3 separate regions of the Homo sapiens genome follow, and regions 2 and 3 are each reported to be linked to region 1. Evidence: microRNA targets listed by miRTarBase, many of them from high-throughput screens and not tested one by one. Region 1 holds a microRNA gene; each other region holds the end of a gene's coding sequence.

Region 1 (10,105 bases):
TTTATTTTTTAATTAATTTTTCCTCCTTAAATCTCTATTCTTTTTATGCTTGCTTCCATTTAGCACACAAATCAGAGTCAAAGTTTTCAATGGACATAATGTTTTATACCCATAATTAAACTGAGAATGGATAGTATGTAAACTATCTGAATAAAGCAATAGCTGATAAACCATATTATTTTAATTTTTAGAGGATGGGTGTATTATTTTGTGATCAAAAAGTCAATTTATATTTACTATAAATTGAACCTCCCAGAGAGTCACACCTTTCAAATAAAATTGTAACTTAGTCTGTTTTCCTAGTAAATAATTTTTTAAAACTAAAAAACTTACACAGATCTTTAGCTTTGAAAGTATGCCTATCATAGTAATTATTATATTGCACAATGTGCATTTCTATTGATTACTTCTTAAAACTTTATAAATTCTTACAAATATTTATACATTTAATATTAAATAAATACATTAGGTAACATTCACATGGACTAAAATTTTCTATTTCAATAGTAGATTGAACAGATTCTTGGAGTTTCAAAAAGAATATCAGCTTGAAAGCAATGTTCCCATGGATTTTTCCGTTATTTAAAAGTTATATCAAATAATCAGAGAGAATGTATTTTCCTTCTTGGCAAAGAATAACTGCACTATTAGTAAACAATTAAAGAATTAAATTTTATGTTAACATTAAATTAAACAAATATATGCTGTATAACAATCATTTTATATAATAGTGACTTTAAATAATTATGAAAAAATGTAAAATTTATATTCACGTATGCCCCAAAAGGATATCACTGCTTTCACAAAATTCATAAATATTTTGAGCACCTACTATGTGCCAAACACTGGACTAGGTATTTTAAAAGATTAACCATTTTAGAAGAATTAAATATCCTCGACAATTATTGGTCCTTTTAACAGAATGGAAAAAAAAACCAGTAATTTTCATGCCGTTCCAAATATTGTAATTGAATTTAATAGCATAAACATTTACACAAGGAGTAAACATTTTTAGAGGCCAAGTGTTCATGTTCATTCTTTATCCACTACAATCATATACATCAACTTTGAATGGAGTTGTTTGTGATTTGGCCTCATTAGGCTAAAATGCTTATGAAGATAGATCTGCGGTTTGAGTAGCTTCAAATTTATTATACAGATGTACATATACGTGTACTCCCATGCTAACACATTAGAATGAATCTGTAAAGCATTCTTTTGGGGCTTTTTTCCCTACTAAAACTTCAAATAAAAAATGAAGCATGAAAAAGCAACAAATATTTCCATGTGTTTCATGCTTTAAGAATTTAAGTAAAAATCTTAAGGACCATTTTATTATTTAATACTAAGACAAAATGTTGGTGAATACTTTTTAAAAGCTTCTGTCTTAGTTGTGATATCAGTTGGCCCACCATCTTTACATGAAATGAAGTGTAGAATTCATACAAAAAAAAAAAAAGGCTTTCTTTGAAATGGAATCCTAAAGAGGTAAAAAGGCCTTAAGCGAATCTAAATCTAGCCCTTCTCATGGATGAGACAAGTGAAGACCAGGCAAGCTGTGTGATAGGTCCATTGTCATAGTTCACAACAGAATCTGTACTCGAAAACAGATTTTCTAGTCTTATTCCAAAGTTCTTTCTACCACAGGATATACCTCACTCCTTAAGTATCATGTAATTGAGGGACAAAATGAAATTTGAGATTTCTCCGTGTAAGAGCCTCAATTCTCAAATTTGCTTTGTCTCAGTAAACACCAAAGCCTATATAAATAACAGTTATGGAAAAAAAAACATGAAACTGGATCCATAAAGTAATCATTCTATAACTTTAATTCCTGTGTAGTTATCTGTAAAACAATCCAGGATATTTGGAAGTCTTATCATGATATATTTCTATTACAAAGGAAAAGGTCTTTTTCTTATATCTGCTTCTGACAGAATAGTAGGCATGACCTTCATTCATTCATTCATTCATTCATTCTTCTTGGAATCCAAAAACTAATGGACTATTTGGCAGATATATAAAAAACTATTTTAAATGAGTAATTTTTAGTTTATCTTGAGACTTCTTTGAAACAGTTATTGAAATTGACTACACTAGCTTAGAGAGACAAAAATAGGCTTCAATTAATACTCACTCATGTATTGAATACAAATTTTAAAAACAAAATTGCAAGAAATATCAACTTTCCAATTAAAATGTATCATTTTTATAAAAATAATCTTTTCAGAAAAAGTGTTTCCAAAAAGCACATATTTCATTCAAGTTTACAAATAGACCCTACTTTCAAATTATGCAATTATGTCACTATTGTAATATAATTTGTCAACTTTTTAAAAAGCATATTATAGTACAAATTTCATTTGAACTGGAAACATAGTATTAATAGATTCCAGCAATATGTCTTTTTTAGTTTGTAATTTAACTGAATGAGATTCAGTATTGGTTTTAAATTAATAAAGGCAATAACCCTTATTTAAAATCTTTGAACTGCATGTTTTAGAACTCGTAGGTTTTTAACATTTGGTTCTAGTTTGATCTACTATATATATATATATTTTCAAATACTATGAGTCTCAAAGGGCTTTTCCACAAATAAAGCAAATGAAGTGTTGTCTTTACCCTTGCATATGTATTATAATATTTTAATTGTGTTGGAGATCAGACTGCCTTGCTTAGCTCACATTATTATTAGCCAGGATGTAACAGAACCCAGAACTCACAAGATACAGTTGGTAATAAATTTTTAAGCTGGTCAACAATACAAACATACAGATACACTGATTTTATTGTTAGGCTGCACTCAACAAACTCAACTAATTACTGGGTAACAAACACATTTCAAGAAATTTAAAATATTATATCTTTTTAGCTTATGTTTTTTGGATGAACTGCAGTGTTTCCTCAACTAAAATGTTTATTTTATACAATCATGCAAAATGTTTTCTAGACTTAAATGCAAGACTTGTAAGTCAAGATTTAAAGTATAAGCACTAAGATAAAAATCTGAAAACATTTAAAAAACAAATTGTACTACAAAGCTATTTGCTTAAACTCTACTTACCATTTGTGTATATAGCTGTACAGCTATCAATAACTAAATTCAATAGCTAAATGATTTAAAAGTCTTTAAATATTCTGATGTCATTATTATATTTTTTCTTCTTACGGAAAATATATCCAAAAGAAATTTACTTTTAAACAGTAAGTCTCCCATGCAGAATACACTACTTTCCAACACAGTAAGAACATCATTCTGTCATTTCCGTGATACAATGGTAGCTGCACCTGTACATATTGACAAGATGGTGAACAACTGTGATGGCCTTATGCTGTCTTTCCTTCTATGTCCTTAGCACTTCTCCTCTGTCTTACATAAAACACAAAAATGTTTCCCAATATACCCATCATCTCTAATTTTGTTGTCTATTTTTAAATTTGAAAATTTCTCATGACTAATGTGGAATATAATAAGACAAAAATTGATAATAGGGTTTTTGGAATATTCCTTCCATCAAAATGCTACTTCATCGTTGCTTGCCTTTGCTTGGACTTTCACTGGGACCTCTGTTCTGGTTCTAGATTGGCATTGCTCTGACACCAAGAACCACATCATTCTAGGGCTCACAATGGCCTCAGGGAAAGTTCATGGGGTTGTCATAATGCTCTATGGATCTTTAACCACGAATACCATCACCACTCCCCACAATTTTATTCAAGCAACAACATCAGAACAGAATTCACAAATACAAAGAATAAAATAAGCAAATTTTCTGAAAAATGCAGTTTCTATCAAGCTACTTACTTGGGACTCAGTAGCAAATGACCAATCAAGATGATGTTTCTTATGCTTATTAATGAATATTATAGTATAAAATTGACCATTTATAGACATTATATAAATTTAAATGGGCGACCTAAAATATCCCACTTATATATCATAAATTGTATTCATAAATTCTGAGTATTTAAGCAGGATTTATTAAAGTAAAACTAGTGGACATAAGTAATTTTCACAATTTGTCTCCCTCCTCCTTTACTGTGCCCTCAGTATTGTCAAATGAACAGCTTAAGCTGAATCCATGTTCCTTTTTTCAGGAAAAATTTCTATCACCTTTGTAAAGCAAAAGAAATATTAGAAAAGGCTGCTTACCCTTCTAGTCTTAGGACATCAATTGAAAAGCCATCCAAAAATTATGACTACTTAACACTACTTGGATCTAGCATGAAATGCACAAACAAGCATTTTGTACTTCTTTAATCATGGCTATGGACAGTGACAGGGCAAAAGCAGTCATTGACTAGTGGTGACATAATTTAAAATTACTTTTTCTGGGAATAAAAAAGCTGTCTTTAACAATAAAAATTAACTCCAGTAATTTCAACTTAATAAAGTTTTAATTTTTCCCACTTTCTTATCTTAAAAGGTGTGATGATGGAACATTTTCACCCCTAACTTAAGTAAGAACCAGTTCAGACTGACACCTAATGGAAACTATTATAGGAAAATAATTCTGCAAAGGAAAGAAAGCAATGAGATAAGTATTTAAACAACAACAACAAAAATACTTTCAGTTAACTATGAGTAGAGGTTTCCTTTAGATTTCATCACTAGCATTTGCAATTATTCCATTCTCAACATTATTCTTCCTCTATGAAGCAACTGCAATAAATTTGCACAAAACTGAATAGAATAGCTTATTTTTCAAAAGTTCTTCCTCATCTCCTCAACAAATGCCAGAGTGTTACATCTTCTGTTTCTCACAAACTCTGTCACCAGGACTTCAGCTCTCTTTCTTCCTTTCAAATCCTAAACACTTATTATTTAGCCAACCAGCATGAGGCCAACTTTCCAGAGACCACCTAGGAACTAGAGTATGTAGCTTCTACTTTTCTAATTTCCCAAGGAAACAATGCCACCAGTAGACATATTGCATTTTGTTAAATACATAACAAGCATAATATTTAAAAGCCCTAAATCACCAACTGGTAGATCCCTAGAGAAAAAAGGTAATTCATGGAATAATGAAGGAAAGAACAGGAGTTACATATTCTCTTGCTGGTGATAGAATGTCGAATGCAAAGACAGCATCTGTGTTTTCTTTCCTACTTCAACTCATTCTTAAAATGGACTCGCCCCCGGGAGCTTCTGAGAAGGGCTCCACCCGTTCCCTGCAGACGACAATGTTCTTTGAGCGCAAAAGCTGTGAGTATAGATACCCTGGGAGTAATTGTGGGATCAGACACAATGGGGTGGGATTAGGGGTAGGCAGAGGGTGTGTGTGGAGTACCCTTCACTGGGAATCCTAAATATTAGAAGAAAGGCGAAACCCTAGGTGGGGAAGCATGAGAGTGTGCCTGCTTCCTTCAAGACACCTCGGTGTCAGCCTCTCCAGGGTTCAGACTGCTCTTGTGGGCAAGAGCCCAGTGGGGCACACGCACTTCGTGCCTGAGAAAGGCCCATCCTCCAGGGGGAGAAGGTATCTGAGATGTAGCTCAGCTTAGAGCGGTCCCAGAGCGACAAGAGGGAGAGCTTCACAGGCCTCTAAGTTTATTTGATTTTTCTCCTGCAGTTTCCATTTCTCAGGAATTCAGTCTTCGTGCGTAGCCCGTGCACAACCAACGACCACCACGCAGGGAGGAAACCTGGTCTTAGTGTTTGGCCGCGCTAGTGGAATCTTCTGGGCGCCTGGTACGTTCTTGTCCCCAGCACTCTGTCCTTCCACCTTTGAAGCGCCTTGATAGGACGGTCCCAGATGCCTCACAAGAAGGAAAGGCAAGGTGCAAAGCTGGCAAAGCTGTGTGGTCCGACGCTGGCGAGAGCTGAGACCTGGAGCCCCAGCCCACGCCTTCCACTCTGGGTCATCCTTCCCAGCTTCATCTTGGGCATGCCAACTCCTGCCACGTCCGATTGTCCCCAGGAGTGCCCAGGCATGCTTGAGGGGTGTGGTGGCGGTGGCTTCCTCTTCGCTAGGAGGTGACAAATCCGTGTTGTTTTATCGTCCATTAATATTTGAAACAAACAAACAAACAAACAAACAAAAACTCTAAGTAGAAGGAGGGAGAGGCTCTCTCTTGCTCCCACGCCTTCGCAGCTGACCTGAGAGGGGGGACGTGCCTTGCGTTTGTTGGTGTTTGAGACTCGTCCTAAAGGCAGAGGCAGGGAAGACAGCGCTGAAGAGGCGTCCCAAAGAGATTGGACGTCTGAACAGTCACTGCCTGCCCCAACCTCTTTCAGGAAGGTTCCAGGTCTGTGCCACACTGCAACCAATCCGGTTCCCATCCTGTTTCTCCACCCCTTCTCGGAGAATCCGAAAAGAAAATATGCGTTCCTGAGAGACCCGCCACACTTCCGATCTGGAAGTTCCGCGGGGACCCAGCCCCCGGGCCCCCGCCCCCTCCCCATCTCGGCCGCCAAGTCTGGTTGCGGAGCAGCGCGGCCGGCCGGGGGTGGGGCTCCGGCACCGCCCCGGGCTCGGGATTCGCGAAGTCACGCGCTTCCGCAGGCTTGCGGGGGCACCTTCGCCCACGGACACGCCCTTTCTGCGGAGGCAGCCCCCAGCGACCCTCTGCCCAGCTTCGGCGCCTCACTCGCGACGCTCCCAAACTGCTCAAGGCCTTTCAGTCGTTCCCAACTTTAGAAAATCGCCCCGTCCGCGTCTCTCCCTCCAGCCGCACCCCACCGTGGAGAGGAGAGGAGCGGACTGGGAACGCCGAACCGCCCCGCAGGCTCGGGGAAACGGACCCCCTTCCGCTCCCCGCCCATCCCCTTCACCTCGCCCCCCGCCCCCTGCGCGAACCCATTTTCCAGTCCTGGTCACCAGAGGCGCAGCGCACAGCCTTTCCGGTGGAACCAGTGCGAAAACACCCGAGGAAATGAAAAGAACAAGAAAGTGCTACCTTGGCAACCACGGGCGTTTAGTGGCCAGCTGGTGGGCTGGGGAGGGCGGCCGCTGCCCCCCTGCCGCTGGTACTCTCCTCGACTACGCGTATTCTTAAGCAATAACAACGTAATCCGTATTATCCACCCAAGAATACCCGTCACCGAAGAGAGTCAGAGGACCAAGCTGCCGCTGCCGCTGCTACCGCTGCCGCTGCTACCGCTGCCGCTGCTACTGCCGCCGCCGCCGCCACCAGAACTCTTGCTGCTCGCTGAGCCCGCCCCTGCCTGGGGATGGGCTGAGCTTGACCGGGACCATAAATCCATAACTCGATTTCCCTAAAGAAGGATCCAAAGCTGTGCTCGGCTGCTTCCTGCCCAAATCCAAATGGCCGCTCTATTTCCAATTCTGAAAGACAAATCACAAAATCAAATACTTAACACAGAAGAGTGCTGTCTTTCCAGTGAGGAGGGAAGATGTGGCAAGGCTTTTTGGGCACAAGTGGGAGTGACAAGTAACCTTCAGTTTACCTGGTGCTCTCCCAGTGCTTTCCTCTGCACTTCTCTGCTTGGTACCCAGTCTGGTCTCGGCCAGTCCACTCTAGGTGGTATGATTGAGTGCCATGGCGGCCAGAGAACCCTGTAAGAGACGTGAATAGTTACCCACACAAATACAAATATATTTGCCTAGACGGCTTTGGGAAGAAGTGAGGCTTAAATAAAGATAGGTCATGCATGGGTGAAATTTTCAGTAGTGTGTTTTGGAAATGCACTTTTCTCAAGCCCAAGATCATGGAAAATAAACACTCATTCAATTTACTACTTGAAATCAAATACTTATAGATGTACAAAAATAGGCGTCTTTCCTTTGAAGGCCTTATAGCTATACAACATAATGATTTTTAAAGAAAAAAAAAAGCTTGAAGGCACACAGTAATTAAACCCATTTTCCATAGTGTCAAAACTCACTGAGTTGACAAGCTGGTAGACTTTCTATGATTTAAGCATCATTTTATATCACTACAATGTTTAATTTCATAGCACACTTTTAAAATATATACTATAAATGCATTGCTGTACAGCTGTTGTGGACACCTCTACAGAAAAACCTTTGAAGCTCTGTGTTCATAAATATTATTTTAAGAAGAAAAAGCCAATAAAAACTCATTTGCAAAGTGACTGTAATTTTGGCATTCAGAGAGAGAATCTCTGTGATTCTTTGATGATCAATATGGCTCTTACTGGAAAAGCTTTGTCTTAAGATCCTGCAGTGGATATTCTGATAATGGGGGTTTATTGTTCACTAAATAAAATGGACAAGTGCAACGTCACTACCCAAGACATGGTGTAGCTTCCTTAGAAAGTTCTCAATTTGCTTTCCCCTTTACTCTCAAATACATGAAAGTACATCCATGTAAGGGGAATGGGGGGGAATATGGAAACATGGCAATAGACATTATGATTTCCCAAATTATGTAAGTGCAAATAGCTCTTCATCAAGGAGTAATTATATAACAGAATCTCTCCCACTACCACAACTCATCTCTAACTGACCTGGTTGCAATTTAAGGTGCTTAGGTTGTGTTTGCTCTTATTTTTTTAAAAATTATAATACTTCTCCGGGCACACCAACTCATCATTTTCTTGACATGTTACTTACAGATGGAAAAATCAACATGAATTCTAGGTTTTATGAATAGATGTTTAATATATAATGTCTGAACCTAAAATAACTAGAAAGAAAACCAATATAGCCCAACTACCAGACTGTTTTACATTATTTTCAGATAACTCTTAAGTACACCACTTACAAAAGGACAGATACCAATAAAACAAATAAATAAGCACTATTTTCTGTTGTTACCTAACATAGGTATAAAGTGGAGCTTTTCTCTGGTGCTAGACAAAAAAAAAATTCAGAAAGCTGACAGGTTCTCTTCAGCTTGAACTCCTAGAAACAAAAGCCCTTAGGGAAAGTAATGCAATAGTCTATGAGCAAAGTGTACATTTGCTTCTGCACTCTTCTATTTAAATCTCAACTAATATTAAAAGGAAAACAAGAAACACACTATACAGATAGGCTTGGATTTAGTAAATGGAACGTTATAAACTCAAAAGGATGGTCAAGGGAGGCACACACACACACACACACACACACACACACACACACCCCAATACACAGGGCATCAGAATCACAGCATAAATACCCACACAGCTTTTCAATGCTTTCCAAGTAGTCTCCTTCAGTTTTGCTTCCTCACAATTAAAATAAAATATATACACACACTGACCCACAGACTCGCACGCTTTAAGAAACTAGAACAACGCAGTTGATATGCTTTCTTTCTACCCAAGTAGCAGTGCCAGCCTTTTCCCTACCTACCCAATGTTCCACCAGCTTCAGCACCTGGACGAATGGACAGCTCAACCCGGGCCGACTGCCGGCAGCACTCGCAGCAGAACTGACGCTCTGAGCTCTAACCAAAGCTCTCTCGTGCTTGAGCGGGGCAGCCTGACTTACGAGAACACCATTTCCTACGAGACCACTGCCGCTGGGTGCATATTCAATTCAAGCCTCCTTAAGCTGTCGGATTTCCCCCACCCATCCACCCTCCCCCCCTTCTCCACCCTCCACACAAAAACAAAAAAGGGAAAAAGCCCAATACCATCAGGGCGTTTGTTGATCAACTTACACTTCGCTTTTGAATATTTAGATACTGCTAGCGGAACAATATCAGCGGAGGCTTAGGTCCGCATTAAGTACCTTTGTTCATCGACTCCTGCAAGCCATGTTTATTAGAATCTACATTTCTCTCGCGCCCCAATAACTAGAGGTGTGTTTTGCGGGCAGGGGGCTTTCAGCACCTTTTGATCTCTCAAGGCCACCGCGACTGATTGACGGTTCCCAGTACTTTCCTATGCTATCCCCCATACTCCAACACCCATCCCAGTTAATCGCTTCGCAATTTGCAACCAAAAATACATAAAGAAACGCGACAAAGCAATGGGTTTGAGGAAATAAGCCAATTAAGCTAAAGCTGAAATGCCTCTCTCTCTCTCTCTCTCTCTCTCCCCCCCTTCTCCCTCTTTCTCTTCCCCCTTGACTCCCTCCCTCTCCCTCTCTCCTTCCCTCTCAAGTAGAAAGGGGGAAACACCAAGGAGAGAGAAAAAATCGGGAGGAGGGTGGTAGTCGACTCTTACAGTCAATGGAAAAAGAGTATACAC
Region 2 (10,105 bases), not on the chromosome of region 1:
TACATGCCCAGCATATGCAACCCGAGATAGCAAGGCTGGACACTGGAGCTCTTTCGGACCTCATCATGGCCCAGGGAGAAAAGAAGGGCAGATCTTGATTAGGGGGAGAGAGCCCTGTGGGTTTAGAAGGGAGAACCTGGTTCTGGTGTGGCTTGGGGCCTAGGTATGCACTGAAGAGGGTTTGTACCTTTGAAGAAAAGTGTGGAAGAGGGAATTGCCAGGCTTTGTATGGGGAGATGTGCGTATTAGGAAATAGCCCCTAGAGAATGCTTGGAGAAGCAGAGCTGGATGAGGTGGTGACGTCCTTGTCCCTTATTCACCTCTCACTTAACGGCCCTGACTTCACTCTGGCCTCCTCCAGACCCTGCCAGTCAGCCTGGCAGGGGCTTTCCAGTGTTCTTTGCCTCACCCTGGGTACCAGGATAAGGAGACTGTTCAGAGGGCTGAGGTTCTCTGAACTTGTGACTTGGCTAGAAGGGACAGAAGTGGACAGGTGGCTGGTTAAAATAGGCCTGGTGGCTTCTAGCCAGAGGAACTTAGCTGACCTGACAACCTCTGGATTCCCTCATTCTATATTCCCATTAAGGACCCAGGGATCTCCTCCCGACTCCTACTCCATGTGCACTAGGGAATCTGAGGCACTTAGTTCCCAATGATGGTAGTTGCTACAAATAATTCTTGGGGTGAAGGTTGCGTTGTGGGGGTCGTTTCTTTGTTCAGTGTAGCAGGATAATATCACAGTTAAGAGGGCAGCTTCGGCCGGGGGTGGTGGCTCTTGCCTGTAATCCCAGCACTTTGGGAAGCTGAGGCAGGTGGATCATGAGGTCAGGAGCTCAAGACCAGCCTGGCCAATATGGTGAAACCCCGTCTCTACTAAAAATACAAAAATTAGCTGGGCGTGGTTCGCGCGCCTATAGTCCCAGCTGCTTAGGAGGCTGAGGCAGGAGAATTGCTTGAACCTGGGAGGTGGAGGTTGCAGTGAGCTGAGATCGCGCCACTGCACTCCAGCCTGGGCAATGGAGTGAGACTCCCTTCTCAAAAAAAAAAAAAAGAAAAAAAAAGAGGGCACGTTCTTGGGTTGAACTGCATTGGTACAATCCTGGCTCTATCACTTCATTGATTCTACTTTTTTTTTTTTTTTTTTTTTTTTTTTTGCGACGGAGTCTTGCTCTGTCACCAGGCTGGAGTACAGTGGTGCGATCTCGGCTCACTGCAACCTCTGCCTCCTGGGTTCAAGCCACTCTGCTGCCTCAGCCTCCCGAGTAGCTGGGGCTATGGGCACGCACCACCACGCCCAGCTAATTTTTATATTTTTAGTAGAGACGGGGTTTCACCATGTTGGCCAGGATGGTCTCCGTCTCTTGACCTTGTGATCCGCCTGCCTTGGCCTCCCAAAGTGCTGGGATTACAGGCATGAGCCACTGCGCCTGGCTGATTCTACTAATATCAACTGACCACTTTTGCTACTGTGTTCTAGGCACTGGGAATACAGCCATGATCTAGACAAAATCATATTCTCATGGAGTTTTCATTTTAATTAGGGAGAGAAACAACTTAAGATAATTCCTAGCTGTGTGGCCTCAGTTTCTTTAACCTTAAAACAGGTATAACAGTAATATTATGGTTGTTTTGAGGATTAAATGAAAAAGGCCAGCGTAGTGGCTCATTCCTGTAATCCCAGCACTTTGGGAGGCAAAGGCAGGAGGATCACAAGGTCAGGAGTTTGAGACCAGCCAGGCCAATATAGTTAAACCCCGCCTCTACTAGAAATACAAAAATGAGCCGAGCGTGGTGGTGCACGCCTGTAGTCCCAGCTATTAGGGAGGCTGAGGCAGGAGAATTGCTTGAACCTGGGAGGCGGAGGTTGCAGTGAGCCGAGATCATGCCGCTGCACTCCAGCCTGGGCAACAGAGCGAGACTCCATCTCAAAAAAAAAAAAAAAAGAAGAAGAAATAAGCCTAAATTACATACATAGTACCTGTGGTAAATGTTCATTATGTGCTCCCTGTTACTGTTACTGGGGAAGGCTTCCTTATCAAGGGTTTCAATCCTCTTTTGTGCTATTTGTAGGTAATTCAGTACCAAACTGTTCGATATGATATCCTCCCCTTATCTCCTGTGTCCCGGAATCGGCTAGGTAAGTATGTGGTGGGAAGCCTCCTTTAGGGTGAAGTAGGGGCTAGCTCTGGGTCAGAGGTCGGTCAATATTATTCCTCCCCACTCTGGTTCAGCCCAGGTGAAGAGGAAGATCCTGGTGCTGGATCTGGATGAGACACTTATTCACTCCCACCATGATGGGGTCCTGAGGCCCACAGTCCGGCCTGGTACGCCTCCTGACTTCATCCTCAAGGTGTGTGGTGGTGGGGAGTGATGAAATGGTTCCATCTGTTCCTCTGCCCAAACCTGGACTCCCTTTCCCAGTCCCAGAGCATCTGTCTCCATCCGCTGGCACCAGTGTCAGCCTGGAGGAGGGAAGCAGATGGGTGGGGCGTTTTCTAGGCCTGGGTTGTGGTGGTCATGACATCCCCCAGCCCATCTTGTTCCTCTGTAGGTGGTAATAGACAAACATCCTGTCCGGTTTTTTGTACATAAGAGGCCCCATGTGGATTTCTTCCTGGAAGTGGTGAGTTTTGGAGAGCTAAAGGGAGCTCTGTAATGAAGGAATGGTTTTAGGGCTCTGGGAATTGGGAGGATTTGGAGGAAGGGGTGAGGAGAAACGGGTTAGAGCAGTTTTCTAGAGGGGAGGCTGTGTAATGGTAGGGGAGTGGCTTTCAGTACTTGGGGTTCATTTGTTGTGCTGATGTAATTCTTTTCCGCTGGCATCTTTCTCTTTTGTTCTTGCATTTCTGAATCATAAGAGTGTAGGATGCCTAACACTGAGTTTGGAGGTTTGGGCTGGGGGTTCAGAATTTCGTGTCCTCAGAGACATTTGATGTTGATGGAAGGCCTGAAGGACTATGCCATTGCCTTTCTGAAAGATAACTGTATGTCTAAAGGAATCATCACCTTGTATGGCATCGCCCTCTCCCCCAATCTATTTCAGGTGAGCCAGTGGTACGAGCTGGTGGTGTTTACAGCAAGCATGGAGATCTATGGCTCTGCTGTGGCAGATAAACTGGACAATAGCAGAAGCATTCTTAAGAGGAGATATTACAGACAGGTAAGCTAGAATCCCAGTCTAAGAGTGTGGCTTGGGAGGGAGGCCACCAGGGAGGGATCTGGGTTTGAGGAGAGTATCCTGGAGAGAGGCCTGCTACATGATCCCCTGCCTTCCAGCACTGCACTTTGGAGTTGGGCAGCTACATCAAGGACCTCTCTGTGGTCCACAGTGACCTCTCCAGCATTGTGATCCTGGATAACTCCCCAGGGGCTTACAGGAGCCATCCAGGTACGGGGGAAGGTGGTGAGTCTGGCAGGACCAGAACATGGTTCTGAGAAGGTATTTTTGCAGGAGACCTGGGCTTTGGTCCTTGAGAGCTGGGATTCCCTAGATTATCCCTAGTTTGCTGTAAGTCGAAATGCAAGTTATTTTTGTGTTTCAAATGAGATACCATATATGTCCATTTCATAAGTCGGATTTCTTATATCATTTTTTTCATTTTTAAAATTTATTTTTGGCTGGGCACGGTGGATTATGCTTGTAATCCCAGCACTTTGGGAGGCCGAGGCAGGCGGATCACGAGGTCAGAAGTTCGAGACCAGCCTAACAAACATGGTGAAACCCCATCTCTACTAAAAATAGAAAAAACTAGCCAGGCGTGGTGGCGCACGCCTGTAATCCCAGCAACTCGGGAGGCTGAGGCAGGAGAATCGCTTGAACCCGGGAGGCGGAGGTTGCAGTGAGCCGAGATTGCACCATTGCACTCCAGCCTGGGTGACAGAGCGAGACGCCGTCTCAAAAAAAATAAATAATAAATAAATAAAAATAAAATTTATTTTTATTTATTTTTTGAGATAGGGTCTCACTCTGTTCCCAGGCTGGAGTGCAGTGTCATGATCATAGCTCACTGCAGCCTCGATCTCCCAGGCTCAAGTGATCCTTCTGCCTCAGCCTCTCAGTAGTTGGGACTACAGGCGTGCACCACCATGCCCAGCTAATTTTTTTATTTTTTATTTTTTTTTGAGACAGAGTCTCGCACTGTCACCCAGGCTGGAATGCAGTGGCGTGATCTCGGCTTACTGCAACCTCCGACTTCCAGGTTCAAGCAATTCTCCTGCCTCAGCCTCCCAAGTAGCTGGGATCACAGGCACCTGCCACCACGCGCAGCTAATTTTTTGTATTTTTAGTAGCGACGGAGTTTCACCACGTTGGCCAGGCTGGTCTTGAATTCCTGACCTCGTGATTCGTCCGCTTTGGCCTCCCAAAGTGCTGGGATTACAGGCGTAAGCCACTGCCCTTGGCCAATTTTTTGATTTTTAGTAGAGAAGGGATCTCATTATGTTGCCCAGGCTGGACTCAAACTCCTGAGCTCAAGTGATCCTCCCACCTCGGCCTCTCAAAGTGTTGGGATAACAGGTGTGAGCCACTGCGCCTGGCCAAGTGTGTTTCAAGTGAGGCACAATGGCAGTAAGCTTGACTAGAAGCATCAATAGGTATGAGATCTGGTGATTAAAACTTAGTTTCGGAGCATAAACCAGGAAAGTTTTACTTAGGTTGTTGACTTCCGGTAGTGGGAGGCATATATTTTTAACAATAATTCCTCCTTCCCTCCAAGAAGAGAAAAACACCGTCTCTCTTGAATTCTGTTTCTTCTCATCTGCATTTTCACCCACCCTAGACAATGCCATCCCCATCAAATCCTGGTTCAGTGACCCCAGCGACACAGCCCTTCTCAACCTGCTCCCAATGCTGGATGCCCTCAGGTAAGGGAAGTGGGCTCTGGACACTTGGATATCTCAAGAAAGGAGGAGGTGGGGGATCCTCAGAGGGAATAAAAAAGGTTTGTCCTGTTTTAACTCTGTTCCCTTAAGAATTTAACATTTGGACCCAGGTCGTCTTACTTCAAAGCTCATCACTTTAGCTAGTAGGCTGTGGGCAAATTGAACCTATCTAATCATGAATATGGTGATAATTTAGGTCCCACATCTCCAGTGATGCTGCCTTACAAGAGTGTTGTGAGGGTATGAACTATAAGGTACTCTACCAATGCAAGTTATTGTCACCCCAGGTTCACCGCTGATGTTCGTTCCGTGCTGAGCCGAAACCTTCACCAACATCGGCTCTGGTGACAGCTGCTCCCCCTCCACCTGAGTTGGGGTGGGGGGGAAAGGGAGGGCGAGCCCTTGGGATGCCGTCTGATGCCCTGTCCAATGTGAGGACTGCCTGGGCAGGGTCTGCCCCTCCCACCCCTCTCTGCCCTGGGAGCCCTACACTCCACTTGGAGTCTGGATGGACACATGGGCCAGGGGCTCTGAAGCAGCCTCACTCTTAACTTCGTGTTCACACTCCATGGAAACCCCAGACTGGGACACAGGCGGAAGCCTAGGAGAGCCGAATCAGTGTTTGTGAAGAGGCAGGACTGGCCAGAGTGACAGACATACGGTGATCCAGGAGGCTCAAAGAGAAGCCAAGTCAGCTTTGTTGTGATTTGATTTTTTTTAAAAAACTCTTGTACAAAACTGATCTAATTCTTCACTCCTGCTCCAAGGGCTGGGCTGTGGGTGGGATACTGGGATTTTGGGCCACTGGATTTTCCCTAAATTTGTCCCCCCTTTACTCTCCCTCTATTTTTCTCTCCTTAGACTCCCTCAGACCTGTAACCAGCTTTGTGTCTTTTTTCCTTTTCTCTCTTTTAAACCATGCATTATAACTTTGAAACCAAAGCGGCCTTAGGTCCTTCTCTGGGGTTTTGGGAAGTGAAGAGAGGGGACTTTGTTCACATGCACCCTGTCCCACAGGCAGAGGGGGAAGAGACTGCTGTTGGACTCAAGGGGCAGGGGGAAAGGTGGCGTTGAGTATAGGGATAGAATAATGCGGACACCAGATGCCTGGGATACAATAATGCTGACACCAGATGCTTTGGCGGGAAGGGCCGAGTGACAGGATGGGCGCGCTGGTGGGGAGTGGAAGGACACCTTCGGAGAAGCAGGCTATGGAAGCACGAAAGGAGAAACCGGCTATGGAAGCACGAAAGGAGAAACCTGGACGGCCAAAGGGCGTAGAGCTGGAGAAACCGGGCTTCGTCCGGGGCACTGACGTGGACAGGTTAAGCGGGCGCTGCCCCCAGGTGGCTGGCGCCCCGACCTCCGCTGTCCGGGAAGGCGTCGGTCCCCCTCCCAGCTGTCGCCCAGCCGGCCCCGCCTCCCCGGCGCCCTCCCAAGCCGGCCCTACTTCGCGCACCCGCCACGTGACGCTCCGCCCTCTTTGAGATCACATGATTTAACTCAAGTCCCGCAGTGTTCCTCCGCGCTGGCGTAGTCCCTACCTTTCCAACCTCCTCTCCAGTCCCTATTGGTCTACTCATTTTGGCACTTAAGCGTTCTGTAGATCTCTCCAAACATCTGTTTTCTTTTTGACTTCTTATTTCTGGAGATCATCTCCGCCACTTGGGTACTACTTTGTTTTGGTGTCAACGGCCGCCTTCAGCGTAGCAACACGGTTCGTGAATAGCTAACCTTGTAATTGTCCCTGCTGTTCCTCTACGTTGTTAACGAAAGGAACTTGGAGAACCAAGTCTCGTATGATGATTACCATCTTTTACTCCTCTTCAGCCCCAGCTTCCTTGAGGGGACGGTTGGGGAATAGGTTTAGAGTAATTTTCGATGAGCAAAAGCCAACCGTCTTTGCTACGTCGCCTGCGTAGCCCACAAATTGATTCCAAAGCGATTACGCTAATGGCGTGAGGGGGCCGGTCAGTTGGTGGTGCTACGCTAGCAGCGTTAGCGCCGCTGAGGTAGTGGCGTATCTTAGCGGGGGGGGCAGTCCCCGATAGTCGGGGGCGGGGTTGGTGAATAGGGAAGTGGCGCAAATTCGTGGATCGCTCCGCTGAATCCGCCCGCGCGTCGCCGCCGTCGTCGCCGCCCCCCGTCCCGGCCCCCCTGGGTTCCCTCAGCCCAGCCCTGTCCAGCCCGGTTCCCGGGAGGATGAAGTTCGTGTACAAAGAAGAGCATCCGTTCGAGAAGCGCCGCTCTGAGGGCGAGAAGATCCGAAAGAAATACCCGGACCGGGTGCCGGTGAGGACAGTAGCCAGGGCCGAGGGCGCGGGACGCTTACGCTGACGCCACAGCCTGGCCTTGGATCGGGACAGGCAGCGCAGGGATCAGGCTGCTGGCTGTGGTGGGGTTGGCAGCGAGCCTGAAACTGCTGTCCTTGGGACCCAGGATGAAAGGAGTGGGGTAGTGGTGGATGTGGGGTTGAGAGGGATGTGGACAGGAGAGAGAAACCTTAGCATTTGAGGCCTTAGAGAGTTTGACAGCCTGAGCTTCAAATGGTCATCCCCCCAGCTAGCTAAGGTTGCGAGATTGAATCACTAGTCGACCCAAACAAGTCACCTCCGTCTGATTAAGATAGTTGTTTATGGTGACGCCCTATTGGGGGATGGATCCTGGATATTTAAATGAGCTCCAGTCAGTGAGGTCAGGATCTCTGGGACTCAGTGCTGCACCGCGTGTACAAAGACAAAGAGATGAATCTGGGGTAGATTTAGGTGCTAGGAATATTGTTTCTTGAGTTCTTGACAGGTGCAGCTTCGGGGCTGCATTCCTTCTGTCTCCTAATTTTCATCTCTTTATCAGGTGATAGTAGAAAAGGCTCCCAAAGCTCGGATAGGAGACCTGGACAAAAAGAAATACCTGGTGCCTTCTGATCTCACAGGTGGGAACCTGATCCAAGACTCAGGCTTGCTTCCTGTGGGTGGGAGTGCAGTCTCTGCGGGAGGAGGCTCCACCTAGCAGCTGTTCTTTTGAGGGCATTTTTGACCTCTGTGACTTTCTTGCATCTTGTATCTTTTGCAGTTGGTCAGTTCTACTTCTTGATCCGGAAGCGAATTCATCTCCGAGCTGAGGATGCCTTGTTTTTCTTTGTCAACAATGTCATTCCACCCACCAGTGCCACAATGGGTCAGCTGTACCAGGTATGGTGACTGGGAAGTGGTGGAGGCTTTGGAGAGGAATCTTGGAAGAGCGTGAGGGGAAGAAAGTGTTGTTACATCAGTAGTTTTGGACTAGCTTCCTGGCTTGCCTTAAAGTTTCATAATAGCCGTGGGTTGGGGGTTTGGACAGAACAGTAGGAGTAGAGAGAAGGAAAGAGAACAGTGAGCTAGAGAAACTATCTGTTCGGGACTCTTCCCAGTCCCCCTCCCCATTCCAAAGCAGCAGAAAACAGTTTGAGGCCTTTTTGCCCAGGACTGCAGAGATTATACTGCTCGTGTGGTAGGCCTTGGAGTCAGTGAAGGAGTCAGGCAATGGTTTGTGGTTCTAGAAGAACGTGTCTGGGTCGTGGTTGGTTTAAGTTACTGGAGCCCAGTTGCTGAACAGTTTTCTGCTTTCATCCCAGGAACACCATGAAGAAGACTTCTTTCTCTACATTGCCTACAGTGACGAAAGTGTCTACGGTCTGTGAAGCTGCTGCCCCTGAGCTGGAGGGGGGTCTCATTCTACAAAGAGAGAGGTGGCCCCCCTTTCTTGACCTCCTCCTCCTTCAAGCTCAAACACCACCTCCCTTATTCAGGACCGGCACTTCTTAATGTTTGTGGCTTTCTCTCCAGCCTCTCTTAGGAGGGGTAATGGTGGAGTTGGCATCTTGTAACTCTCCTTTCTCCTTTCTTCCCCTTTCTCTGCCCGCCTTTCCCATCCTGCTGTAGACTTCTTGATTGTCAGTCTGTGTCACATCCAGTGATTGTTTTGGTTTCTGTTCCCTTTCTGACTGCCCAAGGGGCTCAGAACCCCAGCAATCCCTTCCTTTCACTACCTTCTTTTTTGGGGGTAGTTGGAAGGGACTGAAATTGTGGGGGGAAGGTAGGAGGCACATCAATAAAGAGGAAACCACCAAGCTGAACTGAATTTTGCCTTGTGTTGCTCCCCTCGTCCCGCTGATTTTAAGTCTTTCCAAGGTGTCAGTGGGTTTCAGTGGTGGGGAAAGAAGAGTACTGGGTACAAGCTGGAGGGATAGAAGTATATTTTGGTTTATTCTGTTCATGTTGGGCTTTTCCCTGTCTGCAAAAAGAGGGTGCTTTTGTTGTGATGGAATGGAATACTGAGGATTATTTCTTGAAACTTTAGTTTTATAACACGCATGTGAAACTAAATGTTAAAAATGCTCATGTAAAAAAAAATTTTTTTTTACTGTGGGTTCCTGTGGAGAAAGTTCCGAAGTACCTGCTTTAGGTGAACATCCACATTTGCTAGAACATTCTAACTAAGATATTTTCATGTGTGCAAGCTAGTAAAACGGCTGTTCTCAGTTGCATGTCACTTGGCTAGACTTTTGCCGGTGTGTGGGATCCGGCAGAGTGGAATCAGGGAGGGAGAAGACTGGGAGCGGGAGCCATTATCGCCAGGAATACTTCAACTCCCAGCAATCATTTCTCCGGCAGGCCGGAAGTGGGGCGGTCCTCCTGGGGAGAAAGAAGCTGCAGAACGAGGCAGTATGGTGGCCGAGAGTTCTAATCCCTTCTTCCTCTTCTTTCTTGGTCCCGCCCAGCCTACATCTCCCAGGGGCCTGCGCGCGCACTTCCGCTCTCCCCTCCGGCTCCTGGTCTCCCCGCCGCTCCCCGGGGGAGGGGAGCGGCTTGGTGCGCCTGCGCCAGCCTGTGGCTTTCTGGGAATCAAAGTTCCGGAGGTTCATGCGGTCCCTTTTCCGCTGTTCCCGGACGGACTACAAAACCCTTGGTGCACTGCGCCTCGGCGCCGGCGGGGGGAGGAGGGAGAGAAGAGGAGGGAGGGAGGAGAGAGGAGGTGGAGGAGGAGGAGGAGGGAGCAGGCGGCCGGCGGCGCGGGGGGAGGGGGCCCGGTCCGGGAGTGCGGGAGGCAGTGGTAGAGGGAGGTGGCGGCAGCGGCTAGCGGACTCGAGTCTCAACCGGGCTGAGGCGGACACTTCTGTGGAGCGAAGCAGTGGGAGCATCGAGCACTAGAGGCGGCACCGGGATCCCCGGCTCCGGGGAGGGGG
Region 3 (10,105 bases), not on the chromosome of region 1:
ATTTATAAGATGCCTTATTGTTTACAAAGTACTTTTACATCTTATCTTCTGGTTATTCATCTTCACCATAGTCTCATGAAGCACAGATTATCATATCTGTCTTGCAAATCAGTAAACTGAAGCAAGAGAGGCTGACCTGCCTGAAGTAATACAGTGGTTTGTTGGTGGAGGCTAAACTAAGTCATAGGTTCATTCTCTTAAGTTGGGGCTTTCTGCTCTGTAGGGAGCTGTCTCTGCATATGGCAAAGCACAAAGCTGAATGAGGTCTGGACAAAGAAGCTCCACTCGCAATCTAGAGAGTATCTGGACTATTGCAGTGATTAAATGAGGTAATGTAAGGCACTTAGCACAATGTATAACACAGAAGAAATGAGAGTCGTTGTTACTTTTATTATTAAATTGTTATAAGTTGGTTGATGCTGGTGGTTGGAGAGTTTGGGGTAAAGGGCAATGGCCAGAGATCTAGAAATGGTTTAGGAAAAGCGTCAGGAGCAAACATGACCCGTTGGGACTGTCTGCTCTATGTACACTAAAATAAAAAGATAATTTTTAAAAAGCCATTTTGTTAGTAAGGTAGTTACTAATTAAAACTAACTCCTTTAATGTCTACATAAAGATGGATTATCCCTTTTTCCTATACCTGAAAACAACTGGGCCAGCCATAGAAGGGCCAGAGGTATGTCAACTAAAGCATTGGGTAAACGAGGATGGATTTTTTAAAAAGAGAGAGACGAAAGTCAGGAAATAAAGGGGTGTGTGTCCCTAAGTGTGGACAGAGTCCTGGGCAGTAAGGATGGAGAGGAGGGAGAGCCAGAAAAATATATGAAGGAGAGGAGGGTAAAGGAGAATGGGAAAAAGACAGGGAGAGAAAGCAGGTAGGGTTTTATGCCTTCAGCCTAGCTGTTAGTATAATAATAGTTAACACTTATTGAGTGCTTATTGTGTGCCAGGCACTGTTTGCAGCATTTGAGGATCTCACGTGAGATTCCTGAGGCATGATTATTCCTGAGGGTTTGCTCCACCTTCTCTGGTTTTGGTCCCTGCACTTTGTGGTGTGACTCCGGTGCCTCCTGGTGAACCACATGCCTGTCCCACTGATGTTGACTTGACCACTGATTTGAATTGGCTGACCGCATGTGACTGGATGCAAGGGGTACATCACATCCCAGAAGAAACTTCAAGTCATTGTGTTTCTGCCAGGACTCTGCTCTTTCCCTCTGCCTTGAGAATAGCATGTCCCAAGTAGGGGCTGCCCCTTTAGTCTAGGAACCAGGATGATAAGACACATGGAGCAGAGCCACAGAAGCTCACATGTAACCACAACGGTCCCACGTAATGTTAGAGAAACAAATGCTCTTGTAACACTGAGATTCTTGGTGGTATTATTGCATTAAAGTTGACTAATGTACCTCCCACCAACCGTAAGAGATAGGAATTGTTATTATCCTGTGATATTGTGAAATACATAGTTGATCTTCTCCCCGTTTCCTGACATACAACTTCTAAAATCCTTAGAATCTCCAAAGTGATGTCTTTTTATATGCTGATGAGTTGACTGATGCCTGGCAGCCCCTGGGTAGCTTCAGGATGGGGCTGGTCACTGGAAAGACCACAGCAGGATTAGAAGGATGGCAATTTCAGCTCCACCCCATCAACATCTGGGGAGGAGGGCAACTGAAGGTGAAGTGGATCACCAATGGCTGATGGATTAATCAATCATGCCTGTGTTACAAAGTCTCCATAAAAGCTCCCAAAGGACTGGGTTCAGAGAGCTTCTGGATACCTGAACACATGGATGTTACTGGAGGGTGCCACCTGGGGTCGGGGGGTGCAAAGGGGAAGGAGTATGGAAGCTCCGCACCCTTTCCTTCATACCTCACTATATGCATTTCTTTTTCTATATCCTTTGGAATATCATTTGTAATAAACCAGGAAATGTGTTTCGCTGAGTTCTGTGAACCGCTCTTGCAAATTAACCCAAGGAGGGGGTCACGAGAATCCCAACTTGAAGTGGGTAGTTCACAAGTTCCAGAGGCCAGGGCTTGTAACTAATGGGAAGGGTGGAGACCATCTTATGGGACTGAGCCCTCAACCTATGGGAGGTGATGCCATCTCCAAGTAGATAGTGTCAAAACTGAATTAGAGGACACCCAGCTGGTGTCCCTGCAGAAATGATTGCTTGGTTGGTGTGTGGGGAGAATCCCTCACCCCGTTTGGTCACAGAAGTCTTTTGTGATTATTGCTGCTGAGTGAGAGAATAGTAGAAAGCACTTTGTTTTCTTCCACACAGAATCCCCATTTCACAGATGAGAAAACTGAGGCAAGAAACTCGCCCAAGGTCATGCACATTTGTAAGTGGCAAAGCCAGACTTTGAAATCAGAAAGCCTGGCTCCAGAGCCTATTAACCTCTCTATAACAGTCTATCTCCCAAATGGGATTCTAGGCAATTTTTATGCAAATTAAATTATTGAAAATGGTCACGCATGATATTTACAAAACACAAGGGAGAAAGGGAACAAGGGTGTGGGAGGCAGGGGGTGGACACAGTCTGGGCATCTTTCTGCACATATTTCTGGGGATTCTGGCCCAAGAGAGGCCAGATCCCTTAGTGGCTGGGACATCTCTGGGAAACTACCCAGCAGGGACCAGTGTGTCCCTGAGCCCAGTGGTATTTGAAGGGTTCATTCCAGGAAAAAGAGTCTTCTGGGGTGAGAAAAATCCTGGCAAGACAGTTTCATTTTCCTATGTCTTTGTCCCCTGCACACCACTGGCTTGCGCACACACACACAGACACACACACACACACACACACACACACACACACACGCTGTCTCAGCAGGGAGCACTGCTGCCTTGGGTCTGTGTTTGGCAACATGGATCCCCAGCCCAAGTGCCAGAAAGGCAGTTATAGGTGTGGCTCATGTGCGGTAACAACAGTGGTCCGTCTCCCACCAAGAACTCTCAGCCCAGGGATCCTGAACAATGGTTCTTTCCACCAAGCCTGAGACTTGGCTTTCTGTTTCCTTTGGACTCTCTGGGAAAGAAAACCCTGGGAGTTCCCATTCCTAGGTCTGAGAAAACATCTCTGTTAAAAGTTGACCAGGAGGGCACAGGGCCCTACCCTGCACAACGTGAGTCTCAGGCAGGGCACGTGAGCAGCTAGCCTGATCCCAAACAATCGCAGCTCTCAGGGCCTAAATATAGCCCATGCATCTGGCTGTTTTTATACTCAGTTGCTTGGCTCTGATCGACCAAGCTTCCTGTCTGATCACCACTGAGGAACTGAGGGCAGGGGGATGCTGCCCACCACTGCACCTGGCAAGGATATCCCGCTGCCCCTCCGCAGCTGCAAGGCACCTGCGTCCTACACACCCGGGACACATTTTGCAGGGCTGGTTCCTCCACAAATCATCTGGTCAGACTGGATAAGCTTTGGGCCTTGTTTCCATGGGACTAAGGGGCCAGATGTATCCTGGGTGAACCCTGGCTCTATTTTGCCAGTGGGAAGGTCTTTATTCCATTTTCTGGTAAACATTCCAATCCGGTAGCATATGGTTATCACCAAAGAAAAACAAGATGTTTTTGATCCCTTCTGGTAATTTGTTCTGGGCAAACAAACTTGTTTTTCCTGAGTCCAGTCCTTTTGCAATCATGCTGATTTCATCCTGTGCTGTTTATTATTCTCTCTGGTTCTTGAGGCCTGGCCTGGCAAGACAGTCCTATTTTAGGAGACAACACTCTCCCATAGCAATCTTTGCTTTATCTTCGGATACGTTTATTACCTGAGACACTAGGTAGCCAATGGGGCATATGAGAAATACCCTAAGCTCTATGTAGAAAGAAAGCGGGAGCTCCCCACAGGAACCAGTAGGAAACCACAGAGACCAGCCTCTAACGTTTGAAATTATGGGGTTGAGGTGAGCTGAATTTGCAGCTTTTCAGATTGCCTCTGAACAGCAAATATGATGTTGATTTAGAAAAAAAGGTGTGAACTCCTCAGCTGATTGCAGAAGTGTACCTTTTCCCTTTTTCTGAGCCACTTGCTAGTGATTTTTCTGACCCATAACGTTCAGAAATTAGATTGATAACACCTACTTTAAAAGTGAACTTATCCGAAAAGGCCTTAAATAATATTGTAATAACTTTCAAAAGCAAACCAACCAACCAAACAGGCTGGTACTTAGGGAGGGTCTCCTGCTCCACTGGCTTCCTGTGTGCCAGGACCTGGCCTGCTCCTAGCTGGCAGGTGCATCTTGGCCTGTGACGCCACATGCACTTCTTAGCCAACTCTGCCTTGGCCTCCACCTCACTCCCAGGAGCTTTGCCGGTTCGTTGCTCAGCTGATCTCTTGACCCTTCCAGTGTCTGGCCTTCTTCTCCTGATGAGAAGACCCCTAGACACAGGACAGACTGGCTCCATCTTTGTGCCTCCAGGGCTGAGCACAGGCCTGGCACAAGGCAGTCACTCAGTTACAGCTGAACAATGGGACAGGAGCTGTCCTCCACCTGAGATTGTAAATAATAGCTTGGGAGTACAATTACCTGGGAGCTCCTGTTTGATTTGTTTTGTACCCTCTCCTAGGCCCTGCTTCCATCCCACCTGAGCCCCTGGCCTGGAAGATTCTTGGGGCCCTCCTGATGCTAAGATTCTGTGACTCGGGGTGACTCTATTGCTCATCATCCAGGTCACCTCTAGGCTCCCACCAGTGACGCCTGCGTGTTCCATGGCAGCCTCTCCTCAGGCTCCACCCTAGTCCCCAGGGCATGCACAGAAATGAAGGAGTCATGTCGGCTCCTAGAGCAGCGAGTTGTGGCTCTTCTGCCAAACATGGCCACACATCCTTTAGGATAAGAGTTTCAGAAGTTAGAGCCGGGGGTCAGGGTGGATGCACAGAAAGCAAAAAAAAAAAAAAAAGCTTGGTTCTCACTTCTTCAGTTCAATACAGCACACCTTTATTGAGCACCTAAGGATCTATGCTGCCAGAGGAGGGCAGAGTCGACAAAACAGTGGGCAGGCCTCCCCTGCAGCTCTCTGTGTCTGTGATGATGGAGCTGGGTTGGGGAAATCCTGCTGTGACATTTGCCCTGACGCAGTTCCGCACAGCATGGTGGCTTCCAAGCTATGCTCTTGATGGGCACCCGTAAGGAGCTTCTACATGCATTAGAGATGGAGCCTCTCCTATCTTTGCAAGCCTTTGTGGTTCTTCCCTTTAAATCTGCCATCCACGGACCTCAACAGGAGAATAATTTGGTCTTCAGTTTGCTCTGTTTTAGACAAATACTTCACATGACTGATGTAAACTGTTGCATAGTTTCGCAAAGGCTTTCTCATTCATTCCTGAAATTCTCCATCAGTCACAAACACAAATTGTTCAGTATCTGGGGAATTCAAAGCCCTTTCCTCAAAACAGACATTTCTCCTTATCATTCTTCCTTCAGGGGAAGTATTGAAAGTCATTGAAAGTCATCCCCACCCACTAGAGGAGAGAAACGCAAGCCCAGAAAAGGCAAGAGGTACACAGGCATCCACGGGACAGTGGTGATGGGGCTGAGCACTGCCTTCCAGAGCTGCTGCTGGGCATTGAGCGGGCAGCACCCTCTCAATGCCATGTGGACCCTCCTCAATGTGATTGAATGACCGTGTTTCTTGCAGCAAGCTCCTTGTAAGAATCGCTTTAGGTCTCTCTGATGAAGTAAAGATTGATTTCTGCAGAGAAAGTGAGATACTTGTGGCCTTATTCCTGGTCTCACCTCTGTGTTGGGGCTGAGCTGTGCGAGGCTCACAGGGTGATATTGGAGGCTTAGAAGCCGGGGACACTGTGGCAAGGTGATGGCTGAAAGCAGGCTAGATCTCATACCTGCTGGCAGGCCCTGCTTTTCCCAGCAGCATTCCTGTGGGGCAGCGTGATATGAGGGCAGACAAGAATCTCATATGAAGGAAGAGGACAGGGGCTTGTGGACCCACAGGGGCTCTGGGACAGGCAATGTGCAAGCAGATGAAGCCTAAGCCGCAGGGGCTGGGCCAGCACTGCTCTCCAGTGCAGGAGAGGCATGGTGTGGACAGGGCTGGCCACACAGATCTGACCCAGCAAGTTCCTGGCCCCTCAGGCCTGGGTCGGCTTCCTGTGGGTGCTCATCTTGGAGCCAAGAGCTGGCTGTGGGAATCATGGTGCTCAGGCTTCAGAGAGGTAGACACACAGGCACTCGATTCGTCAGGCGGTGGCCATCAGTCAATGTGACCGGCCGGGGCCAGCAACCAGGGCTCAGTGTACACCTGCCACTGCTGGGGACTTTGGAAGAGGCAGGTGTTGGCCAGTTACTTGGCCTCCACCAGCTGCTCCAGGCGCTGCAGCATCGTCAGACGCAGGGCTTGGAACCTGGAGGGAGACATCGCCAAGAGGACTCACTGAGGCCAGACAGGGCAGGGAGGTGGGCAGCAGAGCAAGGGACCTGCAGATGGCCAGCTCAGGAGATCCCTGCAGCAGCCTCATCTCTCCTCTGCCAAGGAGGGGGAAGGCTGTGGCCTGCGCCTCATGAGGTGCAGTCAAACCAGGCTGTGGACTGCACAGAGCATCAGAGCAGAGTGTTGTCATTTCTATTGCAGACTCTAATACAGACAACAGCACACTGGAGTGGACAGGGCGGTAGAGCAGAGATCGGGAAGCCCATGTTTCAGCCCAGATTCTGCCATAACCTATGCGGCAACCTTCCTTGTGCTGGGCCTCAGCGTCCACTCTGTACGTTGAGTGGACCCACTAGTTGCCCCCCAGATCCCTTTCAGCTCTCAAATCTTACGGGGTCAGGACTGACTGCAGAATGGAAGATTCCCTCTGACTTTGGTCTCCTCTGCCTGTTTGGGGTCTGGCTGCACAGACAGGAGCCTGTGGAGGATGTGGCTTTCCACGGGTCATTCAACCAGAGGCTAACATCCATCCTTTCCCCACACACCCCAGGCCCTCTCAGTGAGCTCCTGCCCTTTCCTTCCTAGCTGCCTCCCCACCAGCCCTGGTGGGGTGCCCTCCACAAGTCCTGGACCACACTTCACTTTGCTGAGGGGGAGACGTCATTGGGACTACAGCCTGGCTAACTCATGCATCCGGACCCTGGCGTGGTGTCCCCAGGAGCTGGCAGGTGAGACCTGCTCACCTTTTCATTGAACTAGCCCTCTGCACCTGAAAACATCGGCTGAGGCTGGGAGTTCCAGCATCTGCCACTTTGGGGAAGGCTCAGAATTCCCACTAGGACAAAAGGCCCTAATCAGGCCAAGTCTGCCTCAGCATGCCTGCTCCTTGGAGCCACATCACCAGCAGAACTCAGAAGCTTGACCCAGCGCCCACTTGGGTTCCTGCCTGACTTTCCTGCCAGGTGTTCTGCAGCTCATGCCTGCGCTGGTGAGGATGCCAAGACTGGATGGGTGATCGGGGCTGTGTCCCACTGTTTTGGCAAGCTGTCACCCCAGCGTGGTGGCAATACCGAGCAGGGGGCCAGAGGGTGATGCTGGGGAGCTAGGGTTAGCAGGCCTTCCCGTACCAGGGTACTGGTGCCCATGGAGGAGAGAGACCTCCCAGCCGGCACTGGTGCTGTGCTTTGCAGACCTGCCCTGATGTTCAGGACCCATGACTGTCTGTTTAAGTGCTGCTTACTTCATGGTCAGTTTGATTATTTCTCTTTCTTCCTCTTCTTTTAATTTTTCAACAAAACTGTCCAGCACCGGCATTTCAAACTTAATGTACTGAGCGACCTAGAAAATCCAAGAACATTTTAATGTGCTTTAAATTCGAAGCCAAAAGTATGTTTTCTTTTCCTCAAGGCTTCCATAGTGGCCCATCCAGCCAACATCTTGTATCCACAGAAGGAGCTGCCGCTTTTCCCACCCCACCCCCACACTGCTGTGTTGTGTACAGATGCCAGGACGGGAGCCTATTACTATCTCAAAGGCAACTGTTATCCCTGGGAGGAAATATTAAACTGAATATTAGGAAGAGCATTCAGTACAGCAGCATTGTCACATTGGGTGCCCTCTGGGCTAGGGGGTAGGGAGGTGGGAGCACCATTGTTTCTAACAATGGAATGCAATTGCAGCAGCCTGAGGGATACGGGGTCACTAGGCCTCCTACTTGAGGTTCAAACCCTGTAAGCATCTTCTATGCAGAGGAGTTTGGAAATGCACTCACTGTCTGGTCAGAACTCAGGCTGTTGGTAAGACTTAAATATCTCCCTGTTTTCCACAGGTGCGAGGTAGGGCCTAGTTAAAAAGCCTTTGCATAGGTCTCTCACATAATGACAACAAAATACATTCCAATGAAGGAAAAGACTTTACTTCCCTAGAGGAAAAGGACAGGCCATGGTTTTATAGGACCCAAATTCTTCTTTCCCCTAAGCTGCTGGTGCTGGCGGTCACTGATGGGAGAGGGAGGGCTGGCGCCTCCCTGTGCTAGGCTGGGAGCCCTTTGGGAGAGTGTGGAGCTCCTGGAGACATCAACTGACAGGGCTCTGGCCAGGAGTCCTTGGGAGGCCCCGTCACCCAAGAACCCCTCACCCTAGAGCAGGCCTCCCCAGCCTTGGCCCCCACTCACTTCATGGGGGACTTCCACGCCCAAGTCAGCTTCCATCAGGAAGATCCTGGCGATCTTCTCACATGGCCCATGCAGGATTCTGGAAATCAGCGGGTACTCGCAGTCTTTTAATTTTGTCCGCTCTGAAAAAGAAGGTGGTTTACAAAAATCACGGGAGATTAGGATCACCTCTGTCTGTTCCAGATTAGGAACTGATAGAAAATGTGCGTCTAGGGGCGCAGGGAACCCTAAGAACACAGACCTCGCTAACAGCGCTGCCCTGAGAGATTCCTGCTCATGCAGAAGGGAGGCAGAACAGGGCCCCCAGATCTGCCACTTTGGCATAAGGATTAAGTGGAGCGGCTGGCAATTGAGAAGAAGAAGATACAAGTGAGGCTCTTTGCCCTCCCCTATTTGCCAAAAAGCAGGACATAAATTTGTCAAGGTGTGCCCCCGTCCCTCTCTAGGCAATGATGGAGTTAATCACCAGAGACAACCCGAGCCCCTCCTCAGCCTGGAGAGGGCACCAGAGGAACCTGCACAGCACGTCCCGCTGAAGCCCTTCCCTTCCCGCAGCTCCCCGTGCGGTGACCTTCCCACCCTTCGCCTCCCCAGAAACTCAGGCCCTTCTCCTCTGTCTTGTCACTTCTCTAAAAACTTACTGCTCTTTTGTGAATATGCTATTTAAGCCCAAATTCTGACCATTCATCCCTGGATATTCCAAAGGGCATGCATGATGCAAGTGTTAACAAACTTCTGTTTGTTCTTCTCCTTAATCTGTCTTTTGTTAATCTAAATACAGGGCCCCAGCCAGTGAACCTAAATGGGTAGAAAGAGAAGATAATTTTCCTCCCCTACAGTGTCATTCAGCAAAGGTGCAGCTTGAAGAGAAACAAGATCTGAGGGGTGGGAGAAAGGAAAGCTGAGACGGGAGGGCCAGGGCCTGATGCACTGCGACACGCACCCCACCCTTCCTGACTCGGCGCCAAGGAGCTAGGTACCCACCCATCCATTTCTCTGGAAGAGGCGGAGAGGGAGGCTTCCTATAGCTTGGTGGGATTCTCCTTCAGAATCCTGAAAGAATTAAACTTAATGTACTGAGCGACCTAGAAAATCCAAGGACATTTTAATGTGCTTTAAATTCGAAGCCAAAAGTATGTTTTCTTTTCCTCAAGGCTTCCATAGTGTGCCTGGGTTTGGGTGGGGGAGAAATGTTCATGCTGGGAGGCACAGTGTGCCCTAGCCCACTAGGCAAGCCAGCACGGAGCCCATCTGGAAGGGAGTACAGTCAGTGGTTGGTGGGGAGGGGGCTTGCTGAACAGGTAGAGACCTTTTGCTTTTACGATCCAGAAGTGGGGCAGGTACTTACCCCCAGACTCGTGAACGATGTAGAGTGCGAACTCACTGGGGCCATCTTCCACCTGCACAGGCAGTCACAGGAAGTCAGATCACGGTGCTTGGAGATGGGAGAGAACTGAGAGGGTCCCCTGACAGTAACTACACCCCCAGTAACACACACGCAAGTTGCAAGGAACCTGTCCTCTCCCAAC

What was found. The annotated mature microRNA hsa-miR-2682-5p reads CAGGCAGUGACUGUUCAGACGUC and lies in region 1 at 6,200-6,222, opposite strand. An mRNA with a match to its seed (bases 2 to 7 or 8) in the 3' UTR can be bound and repressed. Matches are read on the target gene's strand: a 7mer-m8 pairs with bases 2 to 8, a 7mer-A1 pairs with bases 2 to 7 and ends in A, and an 8mer does both.
Region 2: miRTarBase lists CTDNEP1 as a target of hsa-miR-2682-5p. Seed matches in the 3' UTR shown: 7mer-m8 at 5,319-5,325.
Region 3: the mRNA of RASSF4 is a reported target of hsa-miR-2682-5p. Seed matches in the 3' UTR shown: 7mer-m8 at 4,457-4,463.

Annotation. Positions count from the first base shown.
Region 1 is chr1:98,039,108-98,049,212 of GRCh38, forward strand. MIR2682 (microRNA 2682) reads right to left here and starts at 6,244; the gene lies at 6,135-6,244. LOC124904228 reads right to left here and starts at 6,396. Exons shown (of 1, transcript XM_047437906.1): 1 at 1,807-6,396. The coding sequence starts at 6,283. The coding sequence ends at 5,762. It overlaps MIR137HG (MIR137 host gene), which reads right to left. Exons shown (of 5, transcript NR_046105.1): 2 at 7,412-7,520; 3 at 6,901-7,289. It overlaps MIR137 (microRNA 137), which reads right to left and starts at 7,064; the gene lies at 6,963-7,064.
Region 2 is chr17:7,239,309-7,249,413 of GRCh38, reverse strand. It overlaps CTDNEP1 (CTD nuclear envelope phosphatase 1), which reads left to right. Exons shown (of 8, transcript NM_001143775.2): 2 at 2,071-2,137; 3 at 2,232-2,350; 4 at 2,552-2,623; 5 at 3,044-3,160; 6 at 3,277-3,388; 7 at 4,779-4,863; 8 at 5,169-5,823. The coding sequence ends at 5,229. It overlaps GABARAP (GABA type A receptor-associated protein), which reads left to right and starts at 6,965. Exons shown (of 4, transcript NM_007278.2): 1 at 6,965-7,173; 2 at 7,735-7,813; 3 at 7,954-8,072; 4 at 8,495-9,406. The coding sequence starts at 7,084. The coding sequence ends at 8,560. It overlaps PHF23 (PHD finger protein 23), which reads left to right and starts at 9,957. Exons shown (of 5, transcript NM_024297.3): 1 at 9,957-10,105. RefSeq lists silencers at 6,203-6,312, 6,903-7,092, 9,690-9,829, 9,880-10,059 and enhancers at 6,705-7,256, 7,257-7,808, 9,490-9,579, 9,707-10,105.
Region 3 is chr10:44,989,541-44,999,645 of GRCh38, reverse strand. It overlaps RASSF4 (Ras association domain family member 4), which reads right to left. Exons shown (of 11, transcript NM_032023.4): 8 at 9,925-9,976; 9 at 8,577-8,698; 10 at 7,644-7,741; 11 at 3,755-6,377. The coding sequence ends at 6,317. LOC124902530 reads right to left here and starts at 5,610. Exons shown (of 3, transcript XM_047426129.1): 1 at 5,475-5,610; 2 at 4,705-4,841. The coding sequence starts at 5,610. ZNF22-AS1 (ZNF22 antisense RNA 1) reads left to right here. Exons shown (of 4, transcript NR_126421.2): 3 at 224-329; 4 at 5,440-5,714. RefSeq lists enhancers at 6,922-7,421, 7,422-7,923, 7,953-8,644.